Homo sapiens: one gene and its partners. The protein of the gene in region 4 purifies or fractionates together with the protein of the main gene of each other region. This does not show direct contact. Each region holds a gene or a part of one and is shown on either strand. Other genes may lie near its edges.

Region 1 (3,119 bases), on a different chromosome or scaffold from region 4:
CTTTCTAGAATCCAGGGATCTGAACAGACTGGGTGGAATCATGATATGGGGTATTTAAGGCAGGTATGGAATAGAACGTGTTTGTGCAGCGGGTAGGGCTGGGGGGAGTATTAGCTTCCCCTCCCCCTCATCATTCTGGTTTGTGCTGTGTGGGGGTGTCTGCTAGAAGGGTGGGGCAAGACAAACAGCCAAGTCTGTATCTATCCCTCTATCCCCAGTTCACAGAGACCTCACAAAGGTCCCCTACTGGAAACCCCTAAAAGATCTCCTGAGAACCCACCAGGCATTCTAGGGAGACAGGAATGTGGAACCCACATCCTTACAGGTATGACTGATATGGTATTGTGCCTCTGGAAGGCATGGCTGCCGTTCAGCGTTACAGACTCTGGATGAGGCCTAGACCAGCCAACGGCTGGGAATGATTACTGCGGGATTAGGGAGGCCTGGCTCCAGCCAGTCTGGGAGAGACCCCCAAGAAGGGAGGCCCTGGAGGAGCTCTCCCCACCCCCCCAGGTTCTTCCTCACAGAGAGCAGCTTTCCAGCAGCCTTGCTCCGGATGTTTCAGGAGACATTTGTGACCAGAGTTCTCACACTCCAGAGACCACAGACCCCTCCATCGGCCCCAGAAGCCCCTTCATAGGTTGAAAGGAAGAGCCTGACAAGGCAGCCCTGCTTCCAAACGGAGCAGGAAACCTTCCCCCAACCCTTACAAAAGGATTCTCCCCAGCCCCCTCAGAACATATTGCATTCTCACGACTCTTTCAGGCAAATCCAAAGGGAAACTGGGACTTTGGGATATCAGAGGACGAGAGATGAGAAGGTGTCATCATTTAGGAATACTTCTGACAGTCCCTCTGGGTCACCTATTTTACAGTCTCCTCCACGGCTTGTTAAAAATGAGGATTACTGTACCCGTCCTCAAATCCAGAATGAGAAATGTACGTGGTGGAGGATGGGGGGAGAATGGGGCCTAGTTTCTGCATTTTTCACAAGTCCCCAGGAGTTCTGGCACGCATTAGCATATGAGAAACACGGAGAGGGTACAGGAGGGAGATGGATGGGGGTGGACAGAATATGTTGAGTCTAAGTCCACTTGAGAGGTGAGTGGCTCACATCACAGAGGAATGGCCAGTCAGGCAGGGCACTGGGCTCATGTGGCCCAGTGATGAGTACCTGTGCCAGGAATCACTCGAGATCCTCAGGGAAGTTAGGTATGAGGACAGATCATCTTGTCTTCCCTAGGCCAAGAAGAGATGTAAATGGAAGGTGGGGTGTGAAGGCCCTTTAATGTCCCTGCTTCCTTGGAAGCCCACCGCTCAAAGGCTGCAAGCAGTGGGAGGGGACCCGTCCATTCCCAATCCCGAAAGGGAAATTCAGCTACGGACTGGGGAGACACCTGGTGGATGAATAAGAAAAAGCACAGAAACAAAGGCAATGGAAAAATTTTTTAGTAAAACTGGAAAAGGCTCTATAAAATGTCCTGACTCCAGCAGTCTTGAGGCAGCACACAATGGCATCAGTGTCTAGGTGGCAGGCACTCCGGGCTGACAGCTTCCTTCTATGGCTCTATGACCAAGCAACCCAGCCCGAGGCAGCTCCCACCAGTGAGGCCCTGATATTGCAGGGCTAAGCACCTAGGATCCAATTCTAGTACATGCCACCTCATGCTAGGCTCTACAAAGTGGGGAGCAGAGGAGCTTGGTACCCACTGTATCACCCTTTGACTTTGAAAGCCTAGGCTGGAGTTTCGCATGAAGTCCCCGATTCCCCTCCAGGTTCATGCGGCCTGACCTCACTGCCTTGAATCTGACCTGCTCATTCCTACCTCAGGGCTTGGATTTCCTTTTCTCTCTGCCTGGGTCCCCTTCGCCGGATGTTCACGTGGCTCTCTCCTTCTAGTTGTTTAGGCCCCAGCTCACATGCCCTCGGCTCAGAGACACCTTTTCAGACCACTTATCTACACTAGCCTGCCAGCACTCTATCGCATTTCTATTTTCTTTACAGCATTTTTCACTAAAACTAGGTTTTCTGCTAATTTGTTCATTGCTTGCTTGTCTCTTCCGCCAGAATGCATGCAGGCAGGGACTTTATCTCTCTTTTCAGTGCTGTATATACAGGACCTCAAACAAAGCCTGAGCAACACAGTAGTTTCTCAGTAGTCTGCTACATTGAATTTTCTCACTATGGAAACCTGCTCTAGGTTAGGCCCCTCAGACTGAGAAGGGCACACAGCTCAGGACCACAGGATAGAGGAGCCCTTGCAGAGTTTTATGCTCCAGCCTATCCTATCAGGCTCATTTCAGTGACCAGCTCTGCACGGCCTTCACTTTGAACGCTTGGAGGTGTCTGGCTGGTCGGGAGTGGGGGCCTGGCCTGAGCAAATCTCAGAGTTCTGTGTCGTAGCCCCCTTTTTGCCAGAAGAGGGCTTTTTGGCCACTGGTCCAGTGTCATCCTTGATCTTCTTGAGCCGGGCCTTGTTCTTTGGTGGAATGGAGAAGGTGAGGGAGTTCTTGTTGAACTCAAGCGGGAAGACACCTACATCTCCATCAAAGCGGTTCTTGGACACCTGCAGATACCGTTTCCCTGGCCCGGTTACCAGCTTCCTGTCCTGCAGGATCAGAACATTGTCTGCTTCCTGGCTTGCCTGGGGAACAGGGGGCAGAAGGAGGAAAGCAGGAGTAAGAGGACATGAGCAAAGCAGAAAGGGGGGCTGACAGGGCAGGGAGGAGTGATAAGAATGGGGAGAGGGGCTGGGTACAATGGCTCACGCCTGTAATCCCAGAACTTTGGGAGGCCGAGTCGAGTGGATCACGATGTCAGGAAATCAAGACCATCCTGGCTAACACGGTGAAACCCCATCTCTACTAAAAATACAAAAAATTAGCTGGGCATGGTGGCATGCACCTATAGTCCCAGCTTCTTGGGAGGCTGAGGCAGGAGAATCGCTTGAATCCGGGAGGCGGAGGTTGCAGTGAGCCAAGATTGTGCCACTGCACTCCAGCCTGGGCAACAGAGCGAGACTCCGTCTCAAAAAAGAAAAAAAAAAAGAGAAAGAATGGGAGAGGGAAAAGTACTTCCCCCCATGACCAAAGCTCTTTGAACTACTGACCACGATGCTG
Region 2 (4,438 bases), on a different chromosome or scaffold from region 4:
AGGAGAAGGGAAAGCCCTTGCATTTGGCTCTTCAGTCACTGCAAGAACTTAAGATCCCTCCAAAGAAAAATAAAAGGAGGGAAGAAAATGCAAGGGAAGAGAAAAATCTTTGTTCCTCTCCGTCCTCACAATACAATGGAGTGGGTGTGGCCACTCCCCTCTGCAGCTTGAAAAGGTTAAGTCCTATGATTAGTCATGACTAAGAGAGATATATAAGTCTATAAGGTGTATATATATGACTAAGATATATATATCCATAAGGTGTATGTATGTGTATGCATATGTATAGACATATATATACACGTCTATGTATAGACATATATGTATGTACATATGTCTATGTATAGATATATATGTATGTCTATACATAGACATATATATGTCTATATACACACACAGATACACCTTATGGATATATATATATCTCAGTCTCATATATACACCTTATAGATTTATATATGTATACACATACATGTATATATGTGTATATACACATACATGTATATACACACATATACATATATACATATATGTGTATATATATACACACATACACACACATGTACACACAGGTACACACACATAGATACACCTTATGGATAGCCACCAAATATATATGCCATGTACCAAATCATGCAATTGATTTCACTAAATGTACTTTTTATCAAATGAATACTGATACTTATAAAATGGAGTGAATATCTTTTGTTAAATTGCCTTTGAAACTGCCAATTAAATTCATTTTGTTTGGCAGTATCATTTTTAAAAAAAAAACATAATAAACATAGTGCCTGAATTGCCTATCTAGTCAGCTATTTACAATAAGGTTCCCCACTCATAGATGAAAATGAGATCATTGTCCCAGTGAAAAAGGAACAACCTCAAAGCATCTTATCCTCACTTAAGCTCAATCTTACCTTCAGCATATTAATTCCCAGAACTATGTTCTTCTCCAAATTCTACGAAATCAGGGCTACTGATTTCTTCAGGAGACATCAAAAATTTGGAGAGCTAAGCTTCTGCCAGTTGGCAAAAGCAGCTTTCAATCAGCTACCTGAATTATTTTAGGAGGCTGGAGGCATCACTATTTCCAAAAGCCATACTGCTAAATCAACAGGAAGATTACAGGCTTTTGGAATCAAGTTCTCAGACTGTGGTCTTCAGTTTTTCTTGAAAGCTGCTTATAAAAGAAGGACTGTGTGAAACTTTGATATTTACATCAAGTCACAACTAAGGGGCAGGTTTGCAAAATCAATTGTGCAGCTTTTATACTCACTGCACATTTACCACATATGTCCTTTATTACACAGTGGAAAACCATTAAATGCACAGTAGTTTTGCCAAGTGGCATTATGCATTTAACAGCTTTATTCGTTTAACAGCTCCAACTCTCATTATATTTTGCCATGTGGTACATGGGATTTTATGCATTTAACAGTTTAAGAAGGCTCTATGGTATTTTCTTTTCATGTATTTCATACTATGGTTGGACATTATGTCTTAGCAAACTGTATTTCACTGATTTCATTGAAGAGAGAAAGTCAGAGTAATCTGGAAAACTTACTACACTGAAATTGAAAAGGGAAACAAACATTTCAATCCCTTTCCAAGTTCCTTGATATTCTACTCCCCTCCTTTTATCAACATCTAAAAATAACCTATATCAGGTTAAAACTGCAGGTAAAGAAGGCTAACCCTGTACTCTATAATTAATCTAAATATAACATTTAACTACAGTTTGAAGTTTTTCAGTTTTAAAAATTTAATTTTTATTGAAAACCTTCTTGCTTAATAGAAATACAATACTCAGTCACTTCCTTTCTTTATAGCACACAACAGAAGATTTGTTAGGGAGATGATCAACCATTTGATTATTTACATATGTAGGGATGAAAACATTTGTCATATAAGGACACAGAGGAAATCAAGCTCAGAATCAAAGGACTCTCAAAATTATGCTTTAACTAACTTTTATTTCCTCCACTCTGCATTAGGTGTTCGCCCTAGGTATACATAAGTGAGCATGCACCTCAAACCTAGGATTCTAGGTTTGGGCAGAAGTTGTCCCTTTAAATGAAGAATTGAAGCAGATAGTAGATCCCATCAACTGTTGCTGCTTTCAGAAATAAAAAACCTAAGCATCTGTCTGCTCTTTTCCCCAGAGCATTACATTCTCCACAATCCCAGAACTCTGAAAAATTTTACTGGATAAGCTTCTGTGTTTTTCTGTTAAAAGATTTTAGCACTTACTCTGCACTCCCCCCACGTGTGTTTTCTCCTGAAAAAATCAACTGTATTCTGTACATAAAAGAAACACCTGACATCAAAAGGTGTCTCTGGGGCTGGGGAAAAGTGGTTATTATAACAGAGTTGGACATTCCCCTTGTGGGAACAGGAAAGGTGATGAGACTTGGCTAAAACTTGGTCTCAGAAAGGTGCTGTTATATACATTCTAAGTTTTGTTCATACACACACACACACACACACACACACACACACATATATAAAGGGAGAGAAACAAAAGGGTACATTGCAGTGTTTAGAATAAGGAGAGAAATCATTCGAGGCTAATTTTTTTTAATCTTTAAAAGAAAAAAGGTCAAGTTTTGGCTTCATCTCTATTTTGAACTCCAATGGGAATAAAAGCAAACTAGAGTAAAAGGCAGAACATGACAGGTTTCTTGGGGGTTATTACTGTTATTATTATTATAGGAACAGATGTATTTTTATTGGTGGAGGAAGGAGAAGGATCTAATTCCAGCCCTCGATTTTGCTTTTTTAAAAACCACTCACCTGACTTTTATTTGCAGCCACTTTGGCAAACAGGGCTTGAGACACCTTGGCCCTTTTCATCTCCTGTTGGATCTCGTCATAAATGGCAGCTGTGATGTTGATGTTGGCGCCGTCCACCTTAATAGGGAGGTCTGTTGTCGGTGTCGAGGTTTTGGCCTACCAAGAGACCATGAAAATAATAATTTAAAAAGTGCTGCATTCAGCCCAGCCATCTGTGCAGAAATTATCAAAGGATTTCAGTCAGCTGATGCCAAACTGCATTAGCTACAGAGGGACACTTCCTGTCCATTATTCTAATCAGGTTAATTGTGATTGGAAATAATTGCAGTGCATTCCTATAGGACATGCAGAATCCTGTCAACCCTGTTCTCTCACAGCATCCCAGACGAAGGTTCACAGGTAGGATGGCTCTCCTAGACACCAAACTATAAGCAACCATCTAACTACAAAACAAACATGCAGAACACACACACAGTTAACCTTTTCTTTCTAAAAATGGCACACCTTGGAATAAGAGCCAATTCTTCCAGAAAAAAAATAAGTAAATGGGTAGAGGTCTCTAAATAATAAATTATTACTCAATTTAATGCACTCCCAAGTCTCTCTTATTCTTTATTAAAGCTTTACATATGTCATTCGAGTATGTATGGTTTCCCATCATTATCATCATTATGCTACCCAGACAGTCACCTAATTTCACCTAGGAAATCAGTGGAAATGAAACAAAATTTCATTTCATAAAACTAGGCTTCACAATGCCTTTGATGTGCCGTTTTCATTTTCTTAAACTCATATTGCGGTTTTATGTATTCTGCAGTGCTCGTTTTAATTGAATGATTTCCCATCAGCTTCAGAGACAAATGAAGGACAATATAGAAGTCTGTACTTCTTGGGGTTAGGATAACCCTAAAATGTCTGAATCTACTTAATCCAAAAGACGGTCATAACATTTACTTGGTGTGAGCCCTAGAATGCATTGCTGGTGTCTAATAAGAGAGGGCTGAGACATTTTCTTAGAACCTCTGGCAGCAAGATTTCAGGAAAAGACATCCTTGATCCTTGTGCACTACCAGCCGAATTGGCCTAACCTGGGTTTTTTCTCTTTGTCCCCATTCACCCTAGAATCTCAAACCAACAGAGTTATCTCCAAATCACAAGTTTCCCTGTGCGGATGCCCTGAGCTGTTCTCTACTGGATCCAGCAGTATGCAGGTCCAGAGAAAGATGTAACAGGCAGTGTGGACTCTGTGACAAATGGTGTCTAGCGGCAGAACTTAAGGCCCTACGTTTCCATAAAGGCTTTGCTTCCTAACAGTGCTCAGTAACTTCTGCCATTTTTCTTCTACCTCCTTCTCTCATACTATTTTCTAATTACCGCAAAGCAATAATTACTATAATTTATGGCGTGCTTTTTATGGGCCAGGTACTCCAGAAAGCATTTTAACATTTGTTTTCACATTTAATTCTTTTAAGATTCCAATGAGTTAGATATTATTATTTTCATCTTACAGATGAAGAAACTGAAATAAAAGAGGATCTTAACCTAGGACACCCAGCAGCCAGTGAAGGAACCATGATCTGAACGCAAGTCTTTCAGGCTCAAAAACATGGGCTCAGGACACTGCACTACACACTGCCTCCAAAAT
Region 3 (4,438 bases), on a different chromosome or scaffold from region 4:
TCTATGAATCCCTGAAAAGGGTACCCATACCAAACATGAGGAAAGAAAGGAGGTGCAATAGGAACTGGGCCTAAGAATGGATTGGGTCCAAAAGATGGCTGGGGGAACATATTCTTGCCACTTAGTGACTCTTCATAATCAGCATGCAGAAGCTGCCCAGGGGTCTCAGATTCAAGATCAGCCTGGTAAGACAATTGTCCATGACTTTCAGACACCTGAGATGGAGGGATAACCAGAGGTGAAGAAAATGTCGGCGGTCCAATCTCTGGCTGTGGCATTTGACCATTAACACTGGCCTCAGTCTGCATAGGAAAGTGGGCATCAGTACAGGTACAATCACTTTCATTCTGAGCAGCAGGAGCCTCTTGGAACCAGGGATTATGAGGATAAACAGGGACAGGGACCTTTGGGTACATCCTGCAGGCTGCCAGGTAGGCCTGGTGCAGAGGGTACAGGTAAGAATGTGGGGCCCACATAGGACAACTGTATGCCTGAAGAGACAAAAAACAGTTAAATAAACAAAAGAGGAGAAAAAAGAGAGGTTTGGGTGGATATCAATCTACAAGTACTAGGGTCAAAATAAGTTTCTCATGCCTACAAAGACCATATAATCTATAGTCCAAATACTAAATCACTGTGATAACCAACGTGAAAATGAATTACAAAATTCACTGCTTTAAGACTCCATTGCTTGCTCCTGTCCTAAAACCAATCTGAAGTCCTCATAGGTTGATAGGAGATAGTATCTCCATCACTGACTGTTTAGCCAGACCTGCATTCACATTCGGGCTCTACCACTAACTCACTGTGTGACCCCATGCAGGCCAGTTAACATCTGAATTTGTTTTACTGGGAATGTCAGTATAAGAGTAGATGATCTCCAATGTCAGGACTCTGCAATTCTAGGAGCCCCCAAGAGTACTCCGAATGTAAGGATTAAGTTAGACCTCTAATCAGGGAGGGATAATGTTGAAAATGAAATATTCCAAATCCTTCCTCTGCAAGAGTTCAGCTAAAAACCAAAATATGAAGAAAGTATAACCAGCTAATTGGCTAACCAATTAAAATCAACATTAAATACATTAAAATTAAGCAATGCAGCAGATAGTAAAATAATCAAGTTTCTTTTTATGAAAGTGGTCAGCAGGCTAAAGGTAGGGCACTTCGTTTCATAGTTTAACTGTCTAGAACCCACAAAAACTAATCTAGGTCAGGAGAAAACCTAACATTTAACAAGGACAGAGTTCTCCAACCTAAGAAAAGCTATTTCTAGGTTGACCACTTCCCAAAGGATACCTCTGCTCTTCTAGTCAACAACCACACTATCTTACATAGGAGGATGTACACGTTATTTCCTTTGATCTTTTCAATAATGGAGGCAAGTAAAGAATATTACCCCCATTCTATAAATGAAAAAAGCTAGGCCCAGATACACTACATGGCTTGCCCAGGGAAATTCAGCTAAAGAGTGATGGAGCAGAACTTCAAGCCCAGATTTACATCTAATTATTCCCCAGCAAGGGCATTTCCACTAGGCTGCCCAAAGATGCAGCTATGTCTTAAATATACTCACAGGTTAAGCCATCACCAGTTAAGACAAAAAAGTAAGTAAAACTGGAGCCTCTACTAGCACCAAAAACAAACGATATAGTACTGAAAATGCTGGTTTTTAAAATGATGAGATTTAGTAAACTTTAGGTTACTGACTGACAGGGTAAGAGTTAACACTAGTAATAATTTAAAACACTATTAATGAATAAAATAACTTTTAAGATGATAAAATGTAAATACCTTCACACCAAGATTGAAGAAGAATCGAAGAATATTCTTATCTAAAAATAAAAGTAATCACTTGTTAAAATTATATATCTGCAGAGATTTTTTTAAATCATCCTCATTAAATATATAGTTCTAAAGACAATTTTACCTACTATAATTGTCTTCTCTAGCCTGTGATACAAAACATAGATAAAAACTGTAATATAACACAACCCAAAAACAGGTTGTTCCCAAAGGTTAATTCCAGATTCAATAGGCTTTGTCTGTTAGCATATAAATCCCAAAATGGCTTAGATTGAAATTTTTATCTCATTAAAACTGAATCTGGGTAAAGGACATTCAGGTGGCTTTCTTTCTCAACTTTTCTGGGGGTTTAAAAATTAGGAAATAAAAATGTTGAGAAGAATGGTAAAATCAACATAAAACCTAACTTATTAGTAGCATCATTTGCAGGATAATATTCTTCCAAGTATTCATATGCCATGAGCCAGTTACTCATAGACACAAACATCAAACTACTAACTAATAAAACAAAAACATCCACATAAATCCAGGTAAACAGCATATAGTAGTCAGTGCATTACTCAAATTTACAGATATAAAATTTTGGAAACTAAAAAGGAGGGAGGTGTAAATTCCTTAAAAATAAAGAGGGAAAGCAAACTTTGAAAGAATTTTTTAAACAAAAATAAGACATACTAAATATAGTACTTTAACAGCCACTACATACTATATTTGCTTTTCTCTGTAACTTTTTCACGGATGCATGTCTGAAATGCAGACCAGTGTTGATAAAGCTCCACAGTGTTTAGGTATCTAATTAGTGAAATTATTATTGTAATTCAGAATGGTTTCAAGTCCATTTATGTAAAAACACAGAAGGAGGTATCATTACTAAGCATACTAGCATTAACAAGTATGCTAGAAACAAAAAAAAATTTTCTGGGCCAGGCGCGGTGGCTCACACCTGTAAACCCAGCACTTCGGGAGGCCAAGGCACGCAGATTACGAGGTCGGGAGATCGAGACCATCCTGGCTAACACGGTGAAACCCCGTCTCTACTAAAAAATACAAAAAATTAGCCAGGCCTGGTGGCATGTGCCTGTAGTCATCCCAGCTACTCAGGATGCTGAAGTGGGAGAATTGTTTGAATCTGGGAGGTGGAGGTTGCAGTGAGCCGAGATCACACCACTGCACTCCAGCCCGGGTGACAGAGCGAGACTCCGTCTCAAAAAAAAAAAAAAAAAAAAATTATAATACATTTTCTAATAAATCAAGCTGAAACAAGAATGACTGACTAATAGCTAAAACTTTGCTGTCCTTCCCATCCTTGAGCTTACTAAGAAACCAGACCTCTGACCTCTACTTACATCTCTTCATTTCTTAACTAAGCTTATTTGGACTTGATAAAGTCGATTTGAACTTGGAGAAGGAGCTCACCTTTAGGTAGGTCCTCCCCAGTCTGACACAGTGAATAAGGTGGTACAATGGCTCGATCTCCCTTTTCATTACAAGGAAACCCAGGATAGAGTGGGTCTTGATAAAGGCTCAATGTCTGAGGCAAAGGCATCAAGGGCTGGTTAACTGCCTGTATTGACACAGGAACTGGAGAGGGTGTTAAATGAGCTTGGGATACAGCTGAATCAGGTCCAGTGGTCAAAGTCTGTGTCACTGACAAAACGGGAATTGGAGCAGGGACACCTACAAAAGAGAAGAAAAGGAATCAAAATGACAAAAGATGAAAATCTCTACAAATATGCTTACATTAACCTATAAAGAATGCTGTATAACTGATAAAGCCAATCTAAAGTAGTACCTTTTAGTATCAACCAAGAGCCCTCCTGGACACCAAGAAGGAAATACGTCCAGGATACAAGCTCTGAGTCAATGTCTTCTAATAGTAGCTCTTGCAGGCACGTGTAGGACATGGGGCTGGTCAAGGGGTTCATTACGGGGCCATAAAGAGCTGGCCCATGAAGGAAGCATCAAACCGTGGTGCTAATTAGTGCTGAGCAACCAAAGCAACCAGCTCAAACATCATGCTCCTGAGACTATGAGGGCATATGTCAGATGAATACAACACCAAATGTACATGGTCTTTCCACATTGGAAGCAGAGCAAAGCAGAGTATCACAGAAAGCTCTGTGAGGCTCCACACACCTAATCCTGCTCAGAGGTCAAACTTCCACTCAAGAATTTGAAGTCTCTGACTAGAAAGGTATTTTGGCTGGCTAGATTTTCTAAACCCTTCTCTAACCTGTTGGTCCAAAAGTTGTAGGTTCACTTGGCCAGGCTGGCACAGTGGCTGGTAAAGAAGGCACCGCAGGAGTTAGATGTACCTCTGGAGAAACTAGAAGGGGAGCTGGATTTGACAAAGACACATGTTCTGCTGGCTTCTTCAAGAAAGGGGTGAGTGGGGGAAGACAGAAAAAGACAAGAGGTCATTTTGCTTTAACACTATTTCTAACCACCAGATACATATTGAGTTGCCTGCCTTTTATACAAATGAAGTACAAATAGCCCTTATAGTCTTAGAAATGTAAGAAAAACACACAGTAGCTAAAGATAATATGCAAACAAATTTGATCCTAACCAAGGGTTGCCTACCAACAAGGACTGTATTTTTTAATACAGACAGGGTTTCACCCTGTTGCCCAGG
Region 4 (5,944 bases):
CAATCAATCACTGCACACAGTCGGCACTCAACCAATCACAGCACACAGTCGTCGCTCAACCAATCACAGCACACAGTCGGCACTCAACCAATCCCTGCACACAGTCGGCGCTCAACCAATCACAGCACACAGTCGGCGCTCAATCAATCCCTGCACACAGTCGGCGCTCAACCAATCCCTGCACACAGTCGGCGCTCAACAAATCACTGCACACAGTCGGCGCTCAACCAATCACAGCACACAGTCGGCGCTCAACCAATCACAGCACACAGTCGGCGCTCAACCAATCCCTGCACACAGTCGGCGCTCAACCAATCACAGCACACAGTCGGCGCTCAACCAATCACAGCACACAGTCGGCGCTCAACCAATCACAGCACACAGTCGGCACTCAACCAATCCCTGCACACAGTCGGCGCTCAACCAATCACAGCACACAGTCGGCGCTCAATCAATCCCTGCACACAGTCGGCGCTCAACCAATCCCTGCACACAGTCGGCGCTCAACAAATCACTGCACACAGTCGGCGCTCAACCAATCACAGCACACAGTCGGCGCTCAACCAATCCCTGCACACAGTCGGCGCTCAATCAATCCCTGCACACAGTCGGCGCTCAACCAATCCCTGCACACAGTCGGCGCTCAACCAATCACTGCACACAGTCGGCGCTCAACCAATCACAGCACACAGTCGGCGCTCAACCAATCCCTGCACACAGTCGGTGCTCAACAAATCACAGCACACAGTCGGCGCTCAATCAATCCCTGCACACAGTCGGCGCTCAACCAATCACAGCACACAGTCGGCGCTCAACCAATCACAGCACACAGTCGGCGCTCAACCAATCCCTGCACACAGTCGGCGCTCAACAAATCACTGCACACAGTCGGCGCTCAACCAATCCCTGCACACAGTCAGCGCTCAACAAATCACTGCACACAGTCGGCGCTGAAGCTCCGCTGCCCGCCCACCCCACCACACCCACACCCACCCACACACACACACCCACACCCACCCCCACACACACACACACAGACACACACACACACGCGCGCGCGCGCCCGGTGCTCAGCCGCGGGGCCCCTCACCCGGCTACAGCTCGGCGGCCGGCTTGACCAGGTGGCCGCTGAAGGTGATGTAGAGGTCTCCGTGCTCGCCGTAGATGGCGTTGTCCCGGTCGCGCTGGAACATGCGCACCCAGACGGCGTCGCCCGCCGCCAGCAGCAGCATCAGGCTCTGGGCCTGCATGACGCTGCGCTCGCTGGGCTGCGCGTAGAGCACGGCCGCGGGCCGCCGGTTCAGCATGATGTGCAGGTAGGTCTCCTTGTAGTTCCAGGTGTGCACGTTGAGGCTGAGGAAGTAGACGCCGGGCACCGTGCAGAGGAAGCGGCCCGCGGCCAGGTCGAAGGCGCCGTCCAGGTTCACCAGCTCCGTGTCGAAGGGCACCGCCTGGAAGTGGTCGGAGCTGTGCAGGCCCTCGCGCCGGCCCACGGAGAAGGCGGCGTAGGCACGTCGGCACGCGGCGCCCGGCGGCCCCACCTGCCCCTTCTGGCCTCTGCGGCCCTGCAGGCCCCGGGCGCCTGGCGGCCCCTCTTTCCCGCTCCTGCCGGCCCGACCTCGGACGCCGGCCTCACCCTTCTCACCTGCAGGGGACAAACGAAAGCCACGGGTCGGGGCCGGGCTGGGCAGGCCTCCCCCATTCCAGCACCCAGGCCAGGGGCTGGGGCTCAAGGGTCACTGTAAGGACACACTCTTTGCAAGTGACGGCCCCTCTCCCAGTCTCCGCGTCCACGTCTGTAAGATGGGGAGAAGCCGTTCTCCAAAGGTGTGGCTAGACCAAGGCCTGTGGCAAGGCCGTCCCCACCGAGAGGGTGGGGACATGGGTGGTCAGGGCCAGCTACGGTCTGCGTTGGGTGTTAAAGAATGAGAAGGCTGGGAAGGTCCTACCCAAGCCTAACCTTAGTACAGCCTTCGGGACAGCGCAGCCGTGTCAAGGGGTCTCAGAGCAAGCGGGCTGCCCAGGCTCCCTTCCCAAGGGGCTGCTACTTTGGGGATCTCAGGAACCCTGGCCCCCTTCCCCAGGATCCTCAGCACCCCACTTTGGTTCATGGGTCCCTCCCCAAGCCAGGCTTCTTCCTGCTTGCGGGGGGAGCCCAGGGGTCCCTGTGCAGGGAGCGCTGCCAGGGCAGACACTGGTGCTCAGCGTGCCCCTCCCGCCCCTCCTCCCAAGCCCCAGGTGCTCCCCACTCCCTGTGGGCTGTTGGGTCCTGGTGGGGGAGCATGCAGGCAGCACCCACGGGCCTCACCTTTGAGGATTTCGATGTCTATAGTGGGCCGTACTCGAGGCAGCCCCCTCCACAGGTCCCCCCTCCACAGGTCCCTGTCACTCACCCGGGCATAGGGTCCAGGGGGCCAGGCCGGGCGGCAGCAGTGCACACAGGGCCTCCTGGGCAGCCCGGGCCAGGCCCCCACGGGCAGCAGCAGTGCTAGGAGCAGCAGGGCGGGGGCTGCCATCTTGGCCAGGGCTGGGGGAGAGGAAAGAGGGGAGGGACTGAGAAGGAGGTGCCCCAGCTGGAGCCCCCAGACCCTACGGCAGCCCGGCCCTGCCCCCGTTGGGAATACAGCCAGTGGAGGCGGGAGCTTCTGCCTGGGCACGGACGGTCCTGGCCCAGTGGGTGAGGCCAAGGCCGAGGCTCAGGGGCTGCTACACTCTGGGCCGCACCAGGCACCCTGCACACCTGGAGTCGGGGAGTCCTGGTCCCCAAAGCTGGGGCCCCCACACCCGGCAGATGGTGGGGAAGCCGTTGTGGGACACAGAGGTCTCTGAGACAGCCCTCTAAACTCAGGAGCGGGTAGCCGCCCAAGGCCCCACCCACTGTGGCTGGGCAGAGCCCTGGGGCGTGGTGGCTGGTCTGCTCCAGGGAAAGGCCCCCCAAGGCTGGCCTGGGGTGGGGGGCCCTGCACAGTGCACAGAGGCACCGTCTCAGCCAGGCCCAGAGAGCCTCTCGTCCGGAGCCCCCAGGGCAGGGCCTGCAGGGGCCTCGGGAGGCCACTCCTCTGCCTCCCCCAGACTAGGGAAGGATGGTCCCACCTTGGTGCCGAGGGGAAGCCAGAGCCAACCTGGGTCCCCCTGAGCAAGGTAGGCCCCCTCCCAACAGCAGCTGCCCCAACAAGCCTGGCCCCCCTGCCAGGTGGGCCTTGCCTACCCCACTCCCCTCACAGCCACATCTGGAGGCTTGGCCAGGAGTGTCTTCCGCTAGGGCAGGTGCACGGGTCGGGATCCTCAATATTCCCTGAAGATGGGCTCTGCTGGACAAAGATCTAGGCTGCCTCCTTCAGGAAGCCCTCTGGGATTGTAGCACAGGGCAAGGTCCTTCCTCCTGCAGTGGGTCATTCCAGGTGGGTGGAATGTCTCTGGCAGTTGAGACACCCTCTGCCTGCCTCCCCATGAGCTCAGCAGACCCTGACTCACCCCCTGGCCCCACTGGACACCACAAGAGCCCCCCTGGACTCCTCCGGCAGAGGGAGCCTGGCAGGAGTGGGTGTGTGCATGCACGGAGGCCTGCAGGAGCCCCCACGGAGTTCCCGGCCGTCCCAGCCCCTGGCCCTGCCTGGCAGACAATCAGGGCTGGATCATGCTCCGCTGGGGTTCAGGGGGAGCCCGACCTGCCCAGGGCGGCTGTGAAGACTCCCACAACCAGCCCCAGGCCCTGTGCTTCCTGTTACCGTCTCAGGGATGCTCCCTGCCTGGCCGGCCGTCTGTGTTACTGTCCCAGCAACCCAGCCGTCAAAGAGCCCTTTCATGCCCGCCTGGGCGCCCGTGGCTTCCTCTGGGCTGTCCAAGAGCAACAGGCCGAGAGGCCAGCTCCGCCGAGCCCTGGACAGGATCCTGGCAGGGCCCCTGTGTCCACTGCGAAGCCTGCCTCGCGGCCCCAGGGTCCTCCTGCCAGCCCCGTGCCCATGAGCGGGGCTGGGGCCCGGCGTCTTGGCCGGCTGGGTTGGGGGATGGTGCCGTGGGCACGCAGCTCTCCTCCATCGGGAAACCAAGCCTGCTGCCCGCCTGGGGTGCGGCGCCCTGAGGAGAAGCAGGCAGATGGAAGCTGTGGCTGGGCGGGCCCGGCGGGGGGGCTGTAGGCCGAGGCCCGTGTTCGGGGCCCAGACCAGGGCCTCCATGCTGCACGGGGCCCCCATGGCCACCAAGCCACCGGGTGACGCACAGCCCTCATGCTGCTGGCGGGGAAGCCAGGCTGGATGGAGCCCAGGAGCGCAGCCTCCCCAGGCTCCGTGGGGTCTCTTCATTCCCTCATGACACCCCTGGGGAGGCCCCGCACCAGCCCCGCCTCTCAGCGGATAAGGACTGGGCCGGACGACTCGCGGGAATGACTTCTAGGCCTCCCAGGCCTCAGCGGGCGGGGGCTCCATTCTCTGTGGGCCCCAGGCCAAGCCCACACAGCACCTTGGCCTTGTCCCGCTCCGACCCTGGGCCTCTGGACACGGACACGCGGCCATTCCCCACAGGTCCTTCCTCCACAAGCCGGCCCCTGTTGTGGGAGGTGCTGGACGTGGCAGGAGAATTGTGGCGGCCTTGCCTGAAAGCAGGCTGTGGGCGGGGAGGGGCCCCGAGCTGGCTCAGTCCCCTCGGCAGATTTGTGTGCGACCTGGGGTCCCGCTCTCCCCGCAGCCCCTCAGCTTGGCCTGGCCCTCAGCACCCCCATGCTAAAGACCGAGGAGGAAAGGAGGACAGGAGGTGAGGGGAGACCAAGGGGTCCCCCCTGTGGGAGCTTCGTGTGCCAGGCTGCGGGCAACGGGCTGGGGAGGGCTGTGGTGGGGACCGCACCAGCTGTAGCCGGTTCCAGGCTCCCCCCTCCAGGTGGCCCTGGGCGGTGACAGCTCACCCTTGGCAGCGGCACCCACTAGGCCCAGCGGCCCCCTCTGGGGACAGCCATCTTCACCCTGTTGGCTGTGGTGACACAGATGGGGTGTGAAGACCTGAGCGCCTGTGACTATGGCACCTGCATCCGACCGAGCCGGCTCAGCGTGGCTGTGCCCTGGGCGGCGAGAACACAGCTCTGCAGATGTGTCCCAGTGGGACAGTGTGCTCCTGGGGCTTGCAGAGAAAGACGGGCGGACGCCCACACTCTGCTGTGCCCTGGGTCTGAGCCTCAGCCTCCCATGCCCGTGAAATGGGCACCCATGGAGCTCAGAAGTATCCAGAGCGTCCCTGAGGCCTAGACACAGGGAACCCTGTGCCCCTCAGTGCCCCCCGACGCCAGCAGAACTGCCCCCTAAAAAGAGAGGCATGTTCCTGACAGTCCCCCTTGAGGGCAGGTCCCAGAGCCTCCCCACGCACAGAGCAGGGTGGAGGGAGGCTGAGGGGTGGGTGAACGGCCCGGGAAGGGTGCCTTTGGGTCCCTTGGGTTCGGGTGGCCCGGGATGACCCGTCCTGGGGAGAGTCCGTCTGGGCAGGCGGCTGGCAGGGCCGATGCCTGAACTATGTGGCACAGAAGCTGCAGGCCAGGCCTGAGTGGGGTGGGCAGGGAGCGCGGGGGGTGACTCAGTGGGGCAGGACAGCATGTCTCCTGGACAGAAATAGCCCTGGCCAGGCATGACCGCGGCATTGCCGTGGCGACGGGGGAGCGGCTGCTGCCGGGTGCCCTGGGGCCCACCCCCCACAGACACCCAGCAGCGTCCCAGGCGGGCCCCGGGAGGGCCGCCCCCTCTCCGTGCTGCGGGGCGCTTGTGCCAGTGAGGTGCGGGTGGAGGTGCCAGGCACTGGGGGAGGGGGCCTCAGCAAGACCCCCGACTCCACCCCTCTCTCCCAGCCTTCAGCTCCCTGCTGTACAGACTGGGGGCTCCTGGACGCCTGGGCTCACTCAGCCCCCGAGAGGAGTGGATGATCTTTCTAAAGGAAGGCGTTTGGGGTCCACCCAGAAAGTGGGGAG

The links. The genes of interacting proteins can lie anywhere in the genome.
Region 1: the proteins of C1QTNF8 (region 4) and TWNK purify together in Homo sapiens (affinity purification with mass spectrometry; one large-scale study listed by BioGRID and IntAct). This does not show direct contact.
Region 2: the proteins of C1QTNF8 (region 4) and SATB2 purify together in Homo sapiens (affinity purification with mass spectrometry; one large-scale study listed by BioGRID and IntAct). This does not show direct contact.
Region 3: the proteins of C1QTNF8 (region 4) and OTUD4 purify together in Homo sapiens (affinity purification with mass spectrometry; one large-scale study listed by BioGRID and IntAct). This does not show direct contact.

The regions. Positions count from the first base shown.
Region 1 is NC_000010.11:100,992,715-100,995,833, reverse strand, and holds the end of TWNK (twinkle mtDNA helicase), read right to left. Parts: intron 2,645-3,119; coding exon 2,324-2,644; 3' UTR 1,431-2,323; downstream 1-1,430.
Region 2 is NC_000002.12:199,321,010-199,325,447, forward strand, and holds part of SATB2 (DNA-binding protein SATB2), read right to left. Parts: intron 2,950-4,438; coding exon 2,794-2,949; intron 1-2,793. UniProt on the Homo sapiens protein: Binds to DNA, at nuclear matrix- or scaffold-associated regions. Thought to recognize the sugar-phosphate structure of double-stranded DNA.
Region 3 is NC_000004.12:145,138,160-145,142,597, forward strand, and holds part of OTUD4 (OTU domain-containing protein 4), read right to left. Parts: intron 4,176-4,438; coding exon 4,037-4,175; intron 3,481-4,036; coding exon 3,220-3,480; intron 1,833-3,219; coding exon 1,792-1,832; intron 492-1,791; coding exon 1-491.
Region 4 is NC_000016.10:1,092,407-1,098,350, forward strand, and holds the start of C1QTNF8 (complement C1q tumor necrosis factor-related protein 8 precursor), read right to left. Parts: upstream 3,839-5,944; 5' UTR 3,750-3,838; exon of another isoform or gene 3,383-3,749; 5' UTR 3,209-3,382; intron 2,528-3,208; 5' UTR 2,517-2,527; coding exon 2,309-2,516; intron 1,646-2,308; coding exon 1,095-1,645; 3' UTR 1,091-1,094; exon of another isoform or gene 717-1,090; intron 1-716.